2 separate regions of the Homo sapiens genome follow, and region 2 is linked to region 1. A link means that fine-mapping ties the variant in region 1 to the expression of a gene that starts in the linked region. Tissue or cell type: whole blood. Region 1 holds a variant in brackets; the other region holds the start of a gene. All regions are shown on one strand. Distances are between the middles of the regions.

What was found. PIP is the estimated chance that this variant, and not a neighbour inherited with it, causes the effect.
Region 2: CSNK1E starts here. The variant in region 1 is fine-mapped to the expression of CSNK1E in whole blood (INTERVAL, PIP above 0.99).

Annotation. Positions count from the first base shown.
Region 1 is chr22:38,415,791-38,423,891 of GRCh38, forward strand. It overlaps LOC105373030 (a long non-coding RNA gene), which reads right to left. Exons shown (of 5, transcript XR_938254.4): 1 at 8,052-8,101; 2 at 7,169-7,388; 3 at 2,226-2,376; 4 at 1,090-1,192. Among named protein-coding and RNA genes, the nearest start is that of TPTEP2-CSNK1E, 21 kb to the left of the region's middle. RefSeq lists an enhancer at 1,766-2,265. The variant G/A (reference allele first, on the strand shown) is at 3,544.
Region 2 is chr22:38,313,608-38,321,708 of GRCh38, forward strand. CSNK1E (casein kinase 1 epsilon) reads right to left here and starts at 3,826. Exons shown (of 11, transcript NM_152221.3): 1 at 3,553-3,826; 2 at 475-562. The coding sequence starts at 550. It overlaps TPTEP2-CSNK1E (TPTEP2-CSNK1E readthrough), which reads right to left. Exons shown (of 15, transcript NM_001289912.2): 6 at 475-562. The coding sequence starts at 550. RefSeq lists enhancers at 1,095-1,154, 1,225-1,394, 1,415-1,464, 5,266-6,170 and a silencer at 3,154-3,543.

The DNA.
Region 1 (8,101 bases):
GCTTCAGCCTCTACCAGGGCAGGCCCTCCCCTATGCCGGAGTGGCAGGGGGTGGGCCTTATGGGTGCGGCCTGAGGCAGAGGGTGCGGGCCAAGGAGTGGGAGAGGACCGTGGCTGCTGAGGGGCTGAGGGGCTGGGGGCCTGGCCCACAGACATCATCTCCCTCCGTCCTCAGGGCAGCGGTGTGAGGTGGGAGCTGGGGCTTCCCCATGTTACAGATGAGGCTCAGAGAGGCCAAGTCACCTCTCCAAGGTCAATCAGTAGCAAGGGGCAGAGCCAGGATTTGGCCAGGTCTGGATGACGCCTGAGATGTAATCCCAACCCCAGCAGTGGGCGTGAGCGGGACCTCCACAGGCAGAAGGAGCAGCTGTTTCCTGACCACCTGCCGGGTGCCTGGCCCTCTGCACGCGCGATGGCTCAGTGAGGCCCTGTGTCCCGCCCCACAGGAGGCTGCAGCCTCGCCCCTTCTCACAGACAGGCCTGAAGCCAAGAAGGCAGGCCTGGGAAGCTCCAGCCTCAGGTGAGCGTCTGAGTTACTGCCCAAACGCAGGCAAACCCCTTTCCTGTCTGGGCCTCAGTGTCCCCATCCGTACTTCCAGGAGATCGGGCCACAGTCCCAAAAGACCCATCCAACTTTTCTTTTTTTTTTTTTTTTTGAGATGGGGCCGCTCGCTCTGTCACCCAGGCTGGAGTGCAGTAGCGCGATCTTGGCTCACTGCAACCTCTGCCTCCCAGGCTCAAGCGATTCTCTTGCCTCAGCCTCCCAAGTAGCTGGGATTACAGGCGCCCACCACCATGCCCAGCTAATTTTTGTATTTTTAGTAGAGACAGGATTTCACCATGTTGGCCAGGCTGGTCTCAAACTCCTGACCTAAGGTGATTCACCCGCCTCGGTGGCCCAAAGTGCTGGGATTACAGGCGTGAGTGAGCCACCGTGCCTGGCCAAGGCCCATCCAACTCTGATGTTTATAACATGTCCCACGGGGAGGCTGGCAGAGAGCTGGGCTGGGAGGCAGCTGCAATGACCCGGGGCTTTCGAAGCCTGCCTTCCCCAGCAAACCCATTCTCCAGGTCTCTCAGTGAGGCCCACCTGCGGCCGGGGGAAGAGGAGGAGTGTCTTTCCTGATGCAGACCCCGCTCCATGCTGCAGTGGATCCACGTGCACGATGCCATGTAGTTGCAGGTTGTCACCCCTGTGAGAGAGGGACTGTTGTTATGGCCTCTTTTTTATAGTTGAAGCCCAGGGCCAGGAAGTCCCTGGGCCCAGGACCACCCGAGAGGGAGGTCATGGTTGGGCCCCTCACCCAGGCTGCGGGCTCCAGGCCCCACCCTTCTGCCGCCACCTTCATGATGCCACAAAGTCGAAGTCTGATTTCATTACCCCCCTGACCCCAAGCTGGTCTTTGGCTGCCAGGAGGTGGCAAGGCCATTTGCGGCCCCCTCCGCACCCAGTCCTTCCCTGCAGTGACTGGGCTGTGAATAGCCTGGCCCATCCTCTCCACGGCCCCACCTTTGCCGTCCCCATGCTCAATTGCCCATATCCTCCCTCCTCTCACCTGCCATTTCCCAGTCATTCCATTGTCTCGCGCTCTCCTGCCCACTGAGGTGCCTCTGGCAGCTTCCCAGGTCCTCCCTGACTGGTTTTGGAACCCCAAAAGTGGCCCCCCTATTCCTGCTGCCCCATTCAATGTCCCACAGCAGCCCCAGACACCTGGAGACTGGCAGAGGCTGCGAGAAGGCTGGCCCCGTCCAGGCTGCCACTCTGCCCACCCGGGCCTGCTGGCTTCCCATCCCTGCCCAGCCCCTGCTCCAGGCCACTCAGCTGCCACGTGCAGCTCCTGAATGCCACCTCCGTCACCCACTCCTCTGCTCCCAGCCTGCCCAGAGCTCCCCACTGCCTACAGGAAAAGGTCCCAGGTCATTAGTGTGTCGTCCTCACCTGCTCACCTGGCCCAGCCCCCAGTACGGCCCCACCCATGCCATGCACCCCCCTTCAGCCTCACTCGCCTCCCCGCCAACCTCTGCCAGGGTACAGAGGCTGAAGAGTCTTCAACCTTAAGGCCAGAAAGCCTTGGGCAAGACGTGTCACCCCTCAGAGCCTCCTCATCTGTACAATGGGGGAATCACAGAACCCCCCTCACAGGGCAGATGGGGGGTGTCAAATGGGAAATCAGAGAGTAAGGGGCTCCATCACCTGGAAAGTGCACCATTCACTGTGACCCTTACCGTAGGGGATTGCTCAGATTCCCCTCCAGCGGTGATAAGAGACTGGGGGTGGGCCTGACAGGGTAGGAGTCAGGGGCGGTGGAGGAGATCTCACAGCCAGGACAGAGTCGCCGCCTGCTCCAGCCCACAGGGCAGACATCGGGGTCCCCATCTGCAGAGAAGAAGATAGGAGGCTTGGGGCACACAGCTGCCAAGCGGAACTGGCATTGGCAACAGGCCTGTCCTTTGCCCCCAACACGCACGCAGCGGGGCTTCTCTGTCCCCTCCAGCCTCTGGGTTTTCTTCATCTCCTTTTTTTTTTTTTTTTTTTTTTTGAGATGGAGTCTCACTGTGTTGCCCAGGCTGGAGTGCAGTGGTGCCATCTTGGCTCACTGCAACCTCTGCCTCCCAGGTTCAAGCAATTCTTCTGCCTTAGCCTCCCAAGTAGCTGGAATTATAGCCACCACACCTGGCTAATTTTTTGTATTTTTAGTACAGACGGGGTTTCACCATGTTGGCCAGGCTGGTTTCAAACTCCTGACCTCAGGTGATCCACCCACCTCGGCCTCCCAAAGTGCTGGGATTACAGGTGTGAGCCACCGTGCCTGGCCTTCATCTCCCCGATTTGGGTTCCAGCCGCTGCTGTAGTTGCTGGGCTGTCTTGGTCTCTGTATCTCCTTAGCCTCCTCTGGCTTTTCCGTGCAGCTCCCGCACCGCTCAGCGCCCCCGGCCTTCTCCCGGGGCCATCCCTTCTTTGGCCCTAGCTCCTTTTCTCTAATGCCCACCTTCCTCTCTGCCTGGCTGCATGCGGGCCTAGGGTTTTGCCATCCTGGGGTCCCTGAGCACCCAGCTGCTTCCCCACAGACATGCCAGTCCTTGTAGTGGGTGGGAGGCTGTCACTTCCCCTCCGTCTGTGCCCCGACACCTGTTGCTGTCCACCTGTGACTCAGTGTGGTGTCTCCGGACCCACAAGCCGGTGCCTCCTCTGCTGGAGCTCCGCTTGATCTGTTTTGCGTTCTCTTCTGCCTCCCTCGGGCTCACTCTTGGCCCCTGGGCCTCAGTAGGCCTCCCTCTCTCAGCCCTTGTCTCTCTGTCATTTTTTGTCTCTGACTCTCTCAGTGTCTCTTTCTGTGTTTCTCCTCTCTCTCCCCATCTCTGTCACAACCTATCCCTGTCACCTCCTCCCACATCAGTGTGTAATATCCCTTCCATCCTCACAGCTCTGTCGCCTCTCCCTGAACCCTTCCCGCCTGTGTGCACTCACCCTTAGGCCCTGCACCAGGTGTAGACAGAGGCCCCGGGGGGAGGTGAGGCAGGAGGGGCTCAGACAGGCCTGGGG[G/A]ACGTTCCAGGGATAGCAAGGGGAGGACAGTGAGCTGAGCCTCTGCCCTGCTTAGCAGGAGCCCCAGGAGGCCAGAGGGGCAGGTGCTGGCCTCCAGACCCTCATCCCAAGGGGCCACATCCCAGAAGGTAACCCTGGTGACAGGCGGAGGGTCAGGAGCCTGGCTCTGGATAGGGCTCTGTGGCTGTTCCTCTGTGTGATGTCGCTAATTCCCCCACCCTCCCCTCTCTTCCTCTGAACTGGGGACAACCAAAGGTCTCTTCTTGGCCTCCTTCTCACTGTGGGCACTGTGAGAGCGGAAAGCAACCTCCACCCAGCAGGGGCTCTGGCTTACTTGCCCCATTATCAAAGCCCCTGCAACCGCAGTGGACGGCTCCAGCGACCATGACCAAGAAGCCCTGGCTGCTGTCCCAAGCCTGAGCAGGTAGCGGCAGGGGTTTGCCCATGGTCCCACCTGGCGTCGGTGGCAGGGCCCAGGCCAGAGGCCGGCTTCAGGACTCTCAGCACAGGGCTGAAGGGTGGGGTCCCAGCTACATCTTTGTCGGTTTGGTTCAGTGCTGAACGGTTTCTGCTAAAACAGGCCTTCCTTACTCACAGAAGGTGCTCAACGGGTTTTCATCGCGTGACCTTGAGACGCCCTTTAGAATCTGTGGTGGGTGGGGCCGGCGTGTGAGCTGAGGGCCAGGATCCAGGCACTTGCTTCTGGCTGTGTGGGAAGGTTCTGCCAGGTTCCAGGCAGCAAGTGGAGTGAGGGGTGGCCAGTGATTGGGGGAGGGGCAAAGCTAGGCTTGGCCAATTTTGCTAAGTGCCTATCTCTGTCTGTCCTCACCTCTCCCCCAGACCTCCTGCCAGCTTCTGAAGGCCAAAGGAACAAAATCCTAGGTGGTCAGGCACATCAGGACCCTGGAGGTCATCAGGTCCCAGCTCCTTTTTTTTTTTTTTTTGAGACCGAGTCTCACTCTGTTGCCCAGGCTGGAGTGCAGTGGCATGATCTCAGCTCACTGCAACCTCCGCCTCCCGGGTTCAAGTGATTCTCGTGTCTCAACCTCCTGAGTAGCTGGGACTGCAGGTGTTCACCACCATGCCTGGCTAATTTTTGTATTTTTAGTAGAGATGGGGTTTTACCATGTTGATCAGGCTGGTCTCGAGCTCCTGACCTAAGGTGATCCACCCACCTTGGGATCAAAGTGCTGGGATTACAGGCGTGAGCCACTGCACCTGGCCTAGCTCCTAACTTTGAAGATGGGGAAAATGAGGCCCAGGAAAGAGAAGAGAACACCCAAGATCACACAGTGGTCAAACCCAAGCTCTCTCTCTAGCCTTCCAGTTTTCATAGACTGAGAGCAAAGTAACCATCAGGTGTCCCTTTTTCCATGGCTGCCAGGTAGCTCAGAGGTCCATTTTCAAATTGTGTGTCTTATATTGTAAGCCAATCCAAATCCCTTCCAGAAGGCAATTCGTATTTATTTAGGTCCAGTAATGTACCTGACACCATGCCATGCCTGGTCACATATGGGATCTCATTTAACGCACACAGCAAGCATGTGAGATAGATATGAATGGCTCTTTCAGATAAGGAAACAGGCTCAGAGACATCAATTAACTTGCCCAAAGTTGCACAGCTAGTAAGTGGTAAAGGCAGGATTCAAATCTAGGACCCTCTGGCTCTGATACCCGTGATCTTTCCTCTCTGTGAATAGGCACATAGAGGCCAGTGCTCTCGGCCCCATGCCCTGGTCTCATTATTGTGCCCATTGCCTGCCATTCTTCCTCATCTTCATTCACTCTCTTGACTAGGAGCCCCTTTCGTGGCTGTGAAGGGGAATATTGGTTATTTATTTATTTATTTTTGAGACAGAATCTCACTCTGTCACACAGGCTGGAGTGCAGTGGCATGATCTCAGTTCTTTGCAACCTCTGCCTCCCGGGTTCAAGCAATTCTCTGCCTCAGCCTCCTGAGTAGCTGGGATTACAAGCCCACGCCACCACGCCCGGCTAATTTTTGTATTTTCAGTAGAGAAAGGGTTTCGCCATGTTGGCCAGGCTGGTCTTGAACTCCTGACCTTGTGATTCACACACCTCGGCCTCCCAAAGTGCTGGGATTATAGGCATGAGCCACCGTGCCTGGCCAGGATATTGGATTTAAAGCTCCTTCGCTTTCCAATTCCTGGGACCCAGGTCTACATCGTCCTTGTAGGAAGATTCAAAGGCTGAAGGGTGCATTTCTACAGCCTGCCAGACAGAGCCCAGAATTCTGTTAGCTTTTGAACCTTGTACTCAGCTTATGCAAACAGGCACAAGAAGAAAAAATAGTGAACAAAGATGTTCATCACTGCGTTGCTCCAGGTCTCAGTTTCTCTATCTGTAAATGAGGGGTTGCCTTGATGATCCATAATGGTGTATAATTTTTGATCTTCTATAATTTGATGAACATTCTATAGTCATTAAAAATTGAAGGCCGGGCGCAGTGGCTCACATCTGTAATCCCAGCACTTTGGGAGGCTGAGGGCGGATCACAAGGTCAGGAGTTCCAGACTGGCCTCGCCAACATAACCCCGTCTCTACTAAAAATACAAAAAATTATCCAGGCATGGTGGTGCACACCTGTAATCCCAACTACTCGGGAGGCTGAGGCAGGAGAATCTATTTTTTTTTTTTTTTTTTTTTTGAGATGGTGTTTCACTCTTGTTGCCCAGGCTGGAGTACAATGGCATGATCTCGGCTCACTTCAACCTCTGCCCCCCCGGGTTCAAGCGATTCTCCTGCCTCAGCCTCCCAAGTAGCTGGGATTACAGGCATGTGCCACCATGCCTGGCTAATTTTGTATTTTTAGTAGAGACAGGGTTTCTCCATGTTGGTCAGGCTGGTCTCGAACTCCCAACCTCAGGTGATCTGCCCACCTTGGCCTCCCAAAGTGCTGGGATTACAGGTGTGAGCCACCACGCCTGGCCAGGAGAATCTCTTGAACCCAGAAGGCAGAGGTTGTGGTGAGCCGAGATTGCGCCATTGCACTCCAGCCTGGGCAACACAGCGAGACTCCATCTCAAAAAAAAAAAAAAAAAAATTGAAAAGATGTAGAATCCATCAATACCCAGAAAAGTCAATACCTGGAAAAAACTGCAATGAGAAAAGCTAGACGCAGGAAGCAGTCATCTGATCGCAGCCATGGGCTCTAACAAAGACAGGGGTGAACGCAATGAGGTGAAATAGCTGAGTCGGATGCCTCCTAAGTTCTTTTCTATTCTTCTGTGAGCTATTTGAGTTCATAAGGAAGATAAATCTTCCAGAAGCTGGTGGGAAGGAAGCCATGGTGAATCTACAAGGATTAGGCCTGAACCGTGGAATTCCAGGCAGGCAGGCAGGTGTGGCCAGATGAGGGCGGGGTTTTTTGCTCCCATTAGATCCGCCCTCTTCCCCCCTCCCTGTCTTCCTCCCTTTCTTCCTCTTCCTCCTTCCTTGTCTTCCTCCCTTTCTTCCTCTTCCTCCCTCCCTGTCTTCCTCCTTTTCTTCCACATGCATGATACCCTCTTCATTCTCTCCATCCTGCCCACCACTCCTGCTCCCCAAGAGGCTGTGACCGAAGTGGGGAAGAGAGGGCAGGGCAGGGCAGAGGGGGTCTCCTTACCCTGGCTCTGCAGGGAAGCTGGTGTGGCATGAGGAGGGCTTGGCAGCACTTTAAGGCCCCTTCAGCCTGCCCGTTGGCACAATTCCAAGCTCCGTGACATCTAAGGTTCTTACACCCCCAGACGCAGCAACTCCCCCCACCCCGCTCCGTCAGCGCCGCAGGAGCCGGAGTGGAGTGAGGGATCAGAGGAGCGGCACGAGGAGGGAGGCAGGTGGGAGGGCTGTGAAAGGGGAACAGGTGGGAGAGGGAAGGTGAGTCAGCCCCGAGCAGAGCTGAGCCAGCAGGAGTTTGCAGCGCAGCCAGGCCTGGGAGCCTCCCTGCAGCTGCGGGCTCTCGGCACCGCGTGGCCCCCTCCCCCAGTGCCCACACTGGCACTGCCCTTTGGCACTCCAGAAGTCCTGGCTTTGGGCTTTCACTTGCCTCTTCTGTGTGACCCTGCCACAGGTCACCTTGCATGTGACCAGAGAGACCAGGCCTCTCCCAAAAGAGCAACTACCACAAGCATATGAGCAAGCTGCAAGCTGGTGAAGGGCCTGGGGGGACCTTGGAACGCCCCATGTTGCTCTGGATGGTGGATGATGGGCCCTCTTGGGGGTAACCCCACATGTACCCCTTCCCCACCCTGCATCCGGGCCTCTCGCACATCTTAGAGGAGGGTAGACATCCCCTAAGACGTGCTCTAGGTGGAGGCTTCTGAGTCTGGGAGCACCTGAGCCTGAATCCTCTTCAGTTACTGCTCGTAGCCCAGGAAGCCGTGGCATCCTGGGGATGTGGTGGGAGGAGTGGGGAGACCTGGCGAGACCCACCCAGGGCCTGCAGGGCTGGATAGAGGGACATCTCTCATGAGCCTCCAGGGTCAGGATTGAGACCCTGGGGTACTCACCTGACAGAAGGGGACCAGGGGTCCTTCCAGAATGTGGGCAGATGCGCCAC
Region 2 (8,101 bases), 100 kb before region 1:
CCCCGAGGTTACAGGGGAGCCTGCGTCATCCCAAAGCCTGCCTGGGCTGGGTTCCAGGAGGCCAGGACATAGAGAGGGGGGCCTGGCTAGGGGTCCAGCAGCAACCCAAGTCCCTTCTATCTACCAATATCCTTCTCCCAGGAAGCAGGGGAGAGGATGTGAACCCCGCCTGGGTTTTCCCACACCCAGCTGGTGACCCAGCTGACCCGGGACACTGAGGCACAAAAGAACCGCATGACTCCTGCAGAAACTGGAGCTAAAAATACCCTCCAGTGCCCAGCCTGGCCTGCGAGAGGAGCCCCCTGGCCTGCCTCCCGGCAACCTGCTGCTTCCTTCCCCATCTGGGATGGCCCTGGGGCAAATCATGCCCCTGGAGCCACATTCTGACTTCAGATCCCCAAATCCTGGGGTCTTTCCTCCTCTTGGTCCCATGGGCTGGCCCCAGGGGCTCCAGCTGGAGCTAGGAACACTTACCCAGGTAGATATCTCCGAAGGACCCGCTCCCGATCTTCCGTCCCAGGCGGTACTTGTTCCCCACACGTAGCTCCATGGCTCACTCTTGCTGCAGAGGAAGCAGGAACATGAGGGTCAGCGACGTGGGGAGCCGGGAAAGGGGTCCAGTCCACCAAGGCCAGGCAGAGCCACCAGGAACTCGAAAACCTGCATTCTCGAAGACCACATTCTGCAGGTGTCAGGTGGCCCACAGCCTGCACTCCACACACCTGGGGAACAGCTAAGGCAGGCTGAGGACAGGTTTCAGTGTGGCCAGAGAGGAAGCAGCCAAGCAAGCATGTCTTTGGGGGATGCTCATTCAGGGGCCCCTCAAAAGAAGCTTCTCAAGGGATCACAACGGGCATCAGCCCTCTTACACCTCCTACCCCCCAGGCTCCCACAGCCTGGCCTGGTCTTCCCAAGTACTGCCCCTGCCCAGAGGCCAGACCTCGCCAGTGCCCAGCACGCCTTGCAGGAGAAAGTCGCATCCCCTACTGGGGGGAAGGCAGAAAAGAATGCCCTCGACCATCCACCTTCCAGCCACCTCCCCATCTCTACGTCATGACACCAAGACCTCACACGGAGGCCCATAGCCGCTTGGATAAACTGTTTGGAGCTGGCGTCCTTTAAGACTAGGAGGGTCTCCTAAGAGGGCCCTCATAGAACAACAAAGGGGACTGAGCCAGGGTTTTAGCCGCCTGCCCCGGATGGGTGGGAGGAGGAGTTCTGATGTGAGCAGCTTCTCTCCTTCCTCAGGGCCAGGGGGGAGCCCTCTGCTCTGGCCTGGGGCAGAGGAGGGACCCCTCTGCTCTGGCCTGGGGCAAAAGTCCGGACACCCTGTTCCTGGTCAGCAGAGGAGGAAACTGAAGGCCTGGAGGCAGTGCTGCCGTGGGGACAGGGACCAGGGACTGCAGTAAACAGGGGGAGGGGTGTTTACAAGAGGACCAGCATCAAGGACTAGCAAGAGGGAACTCCTTTCACAGACAGGGTACTCAGGCTCACAGAGGCCATGCCACCTGTCCCACACCACCCTGCAGATGGTACAGCCTCGCCGAGGACAGGGCTCCGGCTGTCCCACCTGGTGGTCTCCCACACTCACAAACAGGGCAAAACAGGAAGACTGCAGAGCAGCTGTGCTGGCACAGAAGATCAGCCCCTTGCCCGTGCCAAGTGCTGCCCCCAACAACCAGGCCAGCCTGGGAGGGAGATGGATTCCAGGGACAGTGGGCAGATCCCAGGAGAGACAGGGAACCCCGGCACCTGGCTCCCAAGGAGCTCACCAGCCCTCCACCAATAACCACGAGGCAGGGACCTCCACCAGAGCTGGCCAAACTCTGGGCTCTCAATCAAGGGCCGCTGCCCATATGCTTGGCCTGTCTCAGCTGAGGTGCCACGCTGCCAGGGGAACACAGTCCACGTTTGCAGGAAACCCACACGCCACACATCCCACGTACACACACGTCCAGCTTCCCGAGTGTGTACACTCCAACGGAAGAAAGAAAAGCAGGCACACACAGTGAGCCCTGTTGGGGGGTAAGGGGGGGTGTGCACGCAACCCCCCCCCAACACCTCAGTCCACTTTCTGCCAACACCAATTCAGAGACCACACATGGCAGCCAGGAAACCCGCAGGTTAGGAAAGGAACATAAATATACCCGCATCCTATATTACATAAATACCCACGCCGGGTTATATAAATACCCGTGCCCTCTGTCTGGGTGTCTTACATAAATATACTGCACATGACCCCCCAGTCTCTCCCCACTCACCGGCTGTCTGCAGAGAACGAGAGCGGGAAGGGGCAAGCCCTTCAGGACCCCCTGACTGCTATGTGCCAGCCACCCAGACCCCCAGTCGCTCCCCAACACCCCAGGGGTCCAAGGTCCCTGGGGGAGCCTAGACTGTCCCGGCACCAATACCCAAAAAGCCTCCCAGAGGAGAGCAGAAAAGCTTCATTCAGGAATGGAGAGGCTTTTCAGTTCTTTTGCTGCTTCTCCCATGGGGGAGGGGGGGAGATAAACAAAGTGGGGGGAAAAGTGGATATAAAGGTTCAAGAGTTTCAGCAGGTTAAAAAAATTAGACAAACTACCAACCAGCATGGCACACGGGCAGTGCTTCTTACTCCCCGAACACCATCGCCTACCCCTGAGCCGGGGCCCTTGTCCCTCGGACGATTAAAATAAAAATTGAAGGGACATCATAGAAACGAAGGCAAAGGAGACCCAAACACAGGCATTGCTTGGAAGCAACTTGAGACACTTGTGTCCCCTTCTCCTCTCTCCAAATCCTTCTCCAGGAAGGAGGCTATGCCAGGAAGAAAATATGCAAGAAAACTAAGGGAAAAGTTGGGGAGGGGGCTCACCCCACTTCGAGTTAGGGTATTAACAAGAGCTTGGGAATCCTCTAACGACACCCAGACACTGTTTTGCGTTCCTTAGAGACTTGCAAGACATCAATCTCTCACACAAAAATGGGAGAATCCGATCCGACAAATAACCCCCACCCCTTTCTTTCTCTCCACAAAGAAAAACAAATCAGTGGCCTGGTGACCACACACCTCTTCACCTTAGGACCCCCAAACGCCCGTCATCCAACGAGCGGGCGCAGCCTTGCGAACCCCCAGGTCCGGGCGCCGGGGCCGGGAGAGCAGGGGGCGCCGGTGATTGTCCGATGAAACGCTACGCGGGCCCGAATCAACAGTATCCGGCGCCCAGCACCCCAAGCCCCCTCCCTCAGCGTCCCCAAATCACAGCCGGGGTGGCCGCCTGGCCGGCCGGGGCCTCGGAGGGCCCAGCGGGGGGAAGCGGAGGCAGGCCGGCCGGGGGGCCTCCCCCGCGAGCCTGCAAAATAACAGGCCCCCTCCTCCTCGTCCCCAGCCGCGCCTTTGTCCTCGCCGGGCCGAGCGGGCGGCGCCCGGGCTGCCCCCCCTACACCCCAGCGCGAACGCGCGTGTGTCTGCCCTCCCTTCCCTCCCTCTCCAGCAAAAACAAAGAGGCTGAGGGAGCCCGATTCCCCCCAGGTTTGCACCCTTCCGCGGGCCCGCGGCCCCCCGATATTTACCCCGCCGGGAAGGCGCCGATGCCGGGCCACTGCTCGGGGGGCTGCCGCGGGCGGGGGCGGCCCGCCGGGGCGGATGCCGGAGGATTCGCGGAGCCGCCCGGCGCGCCAGCCTCTCCCGGCCCAGCCGCCGCCGCCGCCGCCGCCGCCGCGCTCCGCTCGGCCCCGGCCGGGCTCTGGCTCTGGGCTCTCGCCGCCGCCGCCGCCGCCGCCGCCGCCTCCCTCCTCCCGGCCTCCTGCCCGCCCGCCCGCCCCCGCCGCCGGCTCGCGCGCTCTCGCACCGCGCGCGCCCGCCGGCTCCCATTGAGCCCCGGGCCCGCCCGCTGATGTCATCCCCGGCCCGCCGCCGCCGCCCCGGAGGATTTAAAGGGCCCGCGCCCTCCGCGCTGGGGGCCGCAGCTGCGAGACGCAGTTCCCCAGCCTCAGTGCAGGCGCGCGGGCTTACGCGTGGGGGTGGGGGAGCACACAGATACTGACACCCTAATGCAGTCCAGGGCACAGGTGGAAAAGACGGGGTGCGGGGGGGACAGAGGGAAGAGGAGGGCGCACAAAAAGCGGAGGTGAGGGGATGGGAGGGGAGGGTCTAGACCCAAAGTCTCCTCTCCCCGCCTGCCAGGATCTCTCTCCTCTCCAGGCAGAGCACTGGGCCCCTGCGAAAACAGGCGGCTATTCACGACACTGCAAAAGATGTTAGACTGCTGGAGGCTCAGTCCGCCTCCAGGTTCCGAGTGCCGCAGAGAACACAGGCCAGGTTGATTCAGGGCAAGAGATTTGAGGAGACAGCTAGGGATGTCGACACAAGGCCCAGAAAGGTAGCCTGGGCTCATACATTCTCCTCCCGTGGAAAAACGAAGGGCAAAGACCTCTTCTTCTTTTCCCTGAAGCTCAAACTGTGATGGGCACAGAGAGGACCCCTCAGATCCCAACCTCATTCTCCCCTGTTGAAGGAGGGGTGCCACAAGTACCAAAGCACCGACACTTGAGTCTGGGCTCCGAGTGGTGCACGTTTAGCCAAGCCACCTCCCAGCTCTGAGCTTGGGTTTCCTTAAACAGCAAATGGGAGGAAGGACCCTGTCCTCCCCAGGTCACAGAATTAATAAAAGCTTCTACCGGCATGCAGAGCCGCGATGAAAGGTTGCAGAACAAAGTCATTAAAGTGATGATATTTACACTGAGCCATGCAAAGCTTCCAATTATGACACACCTATATTCACACAGTTGTGACTGTGGACACGCAAAATGCCTGAGGCCCTGCGTCCAATCCCGGAAGCACAGTTCCTGGGAGGAGTCACTTCTATAATAGCCGTATCTTCCCTCCTCGAGGCTGAGGGACTGAGTCACACACGTGTCCAAACGGGCAGGAGCCCCACAGACTAAGTCCTTTCGCCGGCCAGGAAACTGGCCCAGAGAGGGGAAGGGCTTTGCCCAGGACCACAAAGCCCAACAGGACAGCTCTGTTCTCCCAGCGATCACCAGGAAACTGGGTCTATCTAGAGCCCATTTCCAAGAGCAGGAGAGTGAGAAGCCTCCTCCCAGGAGGGCCTGCCTTCAGTGACACCTTTGCCAGAGCAGGGGGTCACCAGCCAGGTGGTGGGCTTTACTTGGCCTGCGCGGTGCTTTCTGTTGTTGTTTTGTTAATTAATCCCCAAAGTTTTTTTTTTTTTTTTTGCTTTTTGTTTTTGTTGGTTTTGAGATAGAGTCTCGCTGTGTGGCTCAGGCTGGAGTGCAGTGGCTCAATATCGGCTCACTGCAACCTCTGCCTCCTGGGTTCAAGTGATTCTCCAGCCTCAGCCTCCCTCCTGAATAGCTGGAATTACAGATGTGCACCACCACACCTGGCTAATTTTTGCCCAGGACCACACAGTATTTTTAGTAGAGACGGGGTTGGCCAGGCTGGGCTGGAACTCCTGACCTCAAGTGATCCGCCTGCCTCGGCCTCCCAAACTGCTGGGATTATAGGCGTGAGCCACCATGCCTGGCCACTCCCCAAAGTTTTAAAACTGGAAGATTTCATATTTCAGATCCAGATTCCCTGTTTCTCTGGGGGCATTAGGAGATCCGGTAACTCTGGGCCCAAGTTCTCAGCCGGCCTGAGCGCCACCCCACCGCCACCCATTTTGTTTCTTTCCTCACATGAGCCCAGGCAGAGAGGCCTGGGCACAATTGAGCAGGGGGTGAAGTCTGCCCCTGTGTCCTCCAGTCCTTACCACCCCTAACCTTCCAACCTGGGCCCTGCTTCCCAAAGCCCTCCTCTTCTTCAGCACTTTCAAGGCAACCAGCCCTGGGAGAGGAGGTTATTTGTTATCTCATTTAATCCTCTCAAACAACAACAGATTACACTGTATTCTTTCAGAGAAGGAATCAGGCTCCTCCCAGTGCTTGCCTAAGGGCACAGATCAACCTCTCCCTTAAACTGGGCCTGGCTGGAACAGACCCCCTGCCCCTTCCTAACCCAGCCAGATCGCCAGGTCTGACTGCAGCACGTTCACGTTCTCCCCTCTGCATTCAGGACTTGTAACCACACCTCCCACCCCAGCACCCCCACCCCACCCCCTGCCCCAGTTAAGATCCTGCTCAGTTCCCTGGGCCAGCCAGGCTGAGGAGCCCGGCTCATCCCCAGGCCTGCTAGGGAGCCTCCCTGCCTTGCCATTGGAAGGACATGCTGTTGTCCACTGCCTGAGTTGTGGGCCCAAGTCCTTGTCCTTCCTATCCCTGGAAGACCTGTGTGTGGGCCCTTCCAAAGAGCTTTGCAGTGAAGCTATAAGGGAAGGCAAACCATGACACAAAACCCAGCTGAGGAGGGGAGACTGGTCCAAAGTGAAAAACAAAACCTTACGTGTTCCAGCAGCCCCACAGCCTGACTTCTCTCTCCGACTTGGTTCACAGTGATTCCTCTCAGATTTAACTCCTAACTTTAAAACCCAACGGTGGGGCCGGGCACGCCCCTGTAATCCCAGCACTTCAGAGGCCAAGGCGGGTGATCACCTGAGGTCAGGAGTTCAAGACCAGCCTGGCCAACACGGTGAAACCCCGTTTCTACTAAAAATACAAAAAATTAGCTGGGCACGATGGCGGGCACCTGTAATCCCAGCCACTCGGGAGGCTGAGGCAGGAGAATCACTTGAACCCAGGAGGCGGAGGTTGCAGTGAGCCGAGATCGTACCATTGCACTCTAGCTTGGGCGACAGAGCGAGACTCCGTCTCAAAAAAATAAATAAAAAACAAAACAAAACAAAAAACCCAAGGGTGTGGCAAAGTTCCCCTAGCTACCTTCTCTGCAAGCCAACAAGAAGATGAAATCAGGCTAGAATAGGTGTGGGGTGAATTGCCAGCTCCCAAGGGGCCCACCCTGGGTTTCAGCTGCTCTGCATTGGTTCAGGAATAGTGGCTCTCACAACACCTTTCCAAACTGGCTTTTGTCTTTTTTTTAGAGGCTCATTCTGTCACCCAGGCTGGAGTGCAGTGGCAGGATCATACCTCGCTGTAGCCTCAAATTCCTGGGCTCAAGCGATCCTCCTGCCTCAGCCTTCCAAGTAGCTGGGACTACAGGCATGCACCACCACACCCAGCTAATTTTTAAATTTTTTATAGAGATGGGGTCTTACTGTGTTGCCCAGACTGGTCTGAAACTCCTGGGCTCAAGTGACCCTTCTGCCTCGCCCTCCCAAAGTGCTGTGATTACAAGTGTGAGCCACTGTGTTCCCAAACTGACATTTTTTACCTGCTCCCTATTTCAGACCCTTCAAGATCACTTGGCACGCAGGAGCACTGGGCTGGGATCCCAAGGACAGCCCTGGAATTCCCAGATAATGACGATATGGCTGCAGATAAACCCAGAAAGATTTCAGTACCTGCCCCAGGAATCTCAGTCTTGACTAAGGACTCATAGATTTACTAAACATCAAGGGCTGGCCTGAAAACGGCCCTCCAGGATCTGTCCTCCACTCCCCGCACCTGGCTCTCCTGACCTCAGCTCCTGTAAGTTTTCTTCTTGCTCACAGCCCTGTAGCCTCACTGGCCTCCCATGGAATGAACCTCTGGCCTCAGGGCCTTGGCAGGGGCTGTTTCCACTGCCTGGTGCGCTCTTCCCGCAGAGCACCAACCCCCCTCACCTCTCACCTTTCTCAAGTCCCCTTCAGAGGTAGGCCCTCCTGGTCTCCCAGTTTATTTATTTATTTATTTTTTGAGACAGAGTCTGGCTCTGTCTCCCAGGCTGGAATGCAGTGGCCCGATCTCGGCTCACTGCAACCTCCGCCTCCCGGGTTCAAGCAATTCTCCTGCCTCAGCCTCCAGAGTAGCTGGGATTACAGGCGTCCACCACCATACCTGGCTAATTTTTGTATTTTTAGTAGAGATGGAGGTGTCACCATGTTACCCAGGCTGGTCTTAAACTCCTGACCTCAGGTGATCCGTCCGCCTCAGCCTCCCAAAAAGCTGGGATTACAGGTGTGAGCCACCACGTCTGGGCCCAGTCTCCCAATTTAAAATCCTGGCGCTGGGCCACAGGCGGTGCCTCACACCTGTAATCCCAGAACTTTGGGAGGCAGAGGCA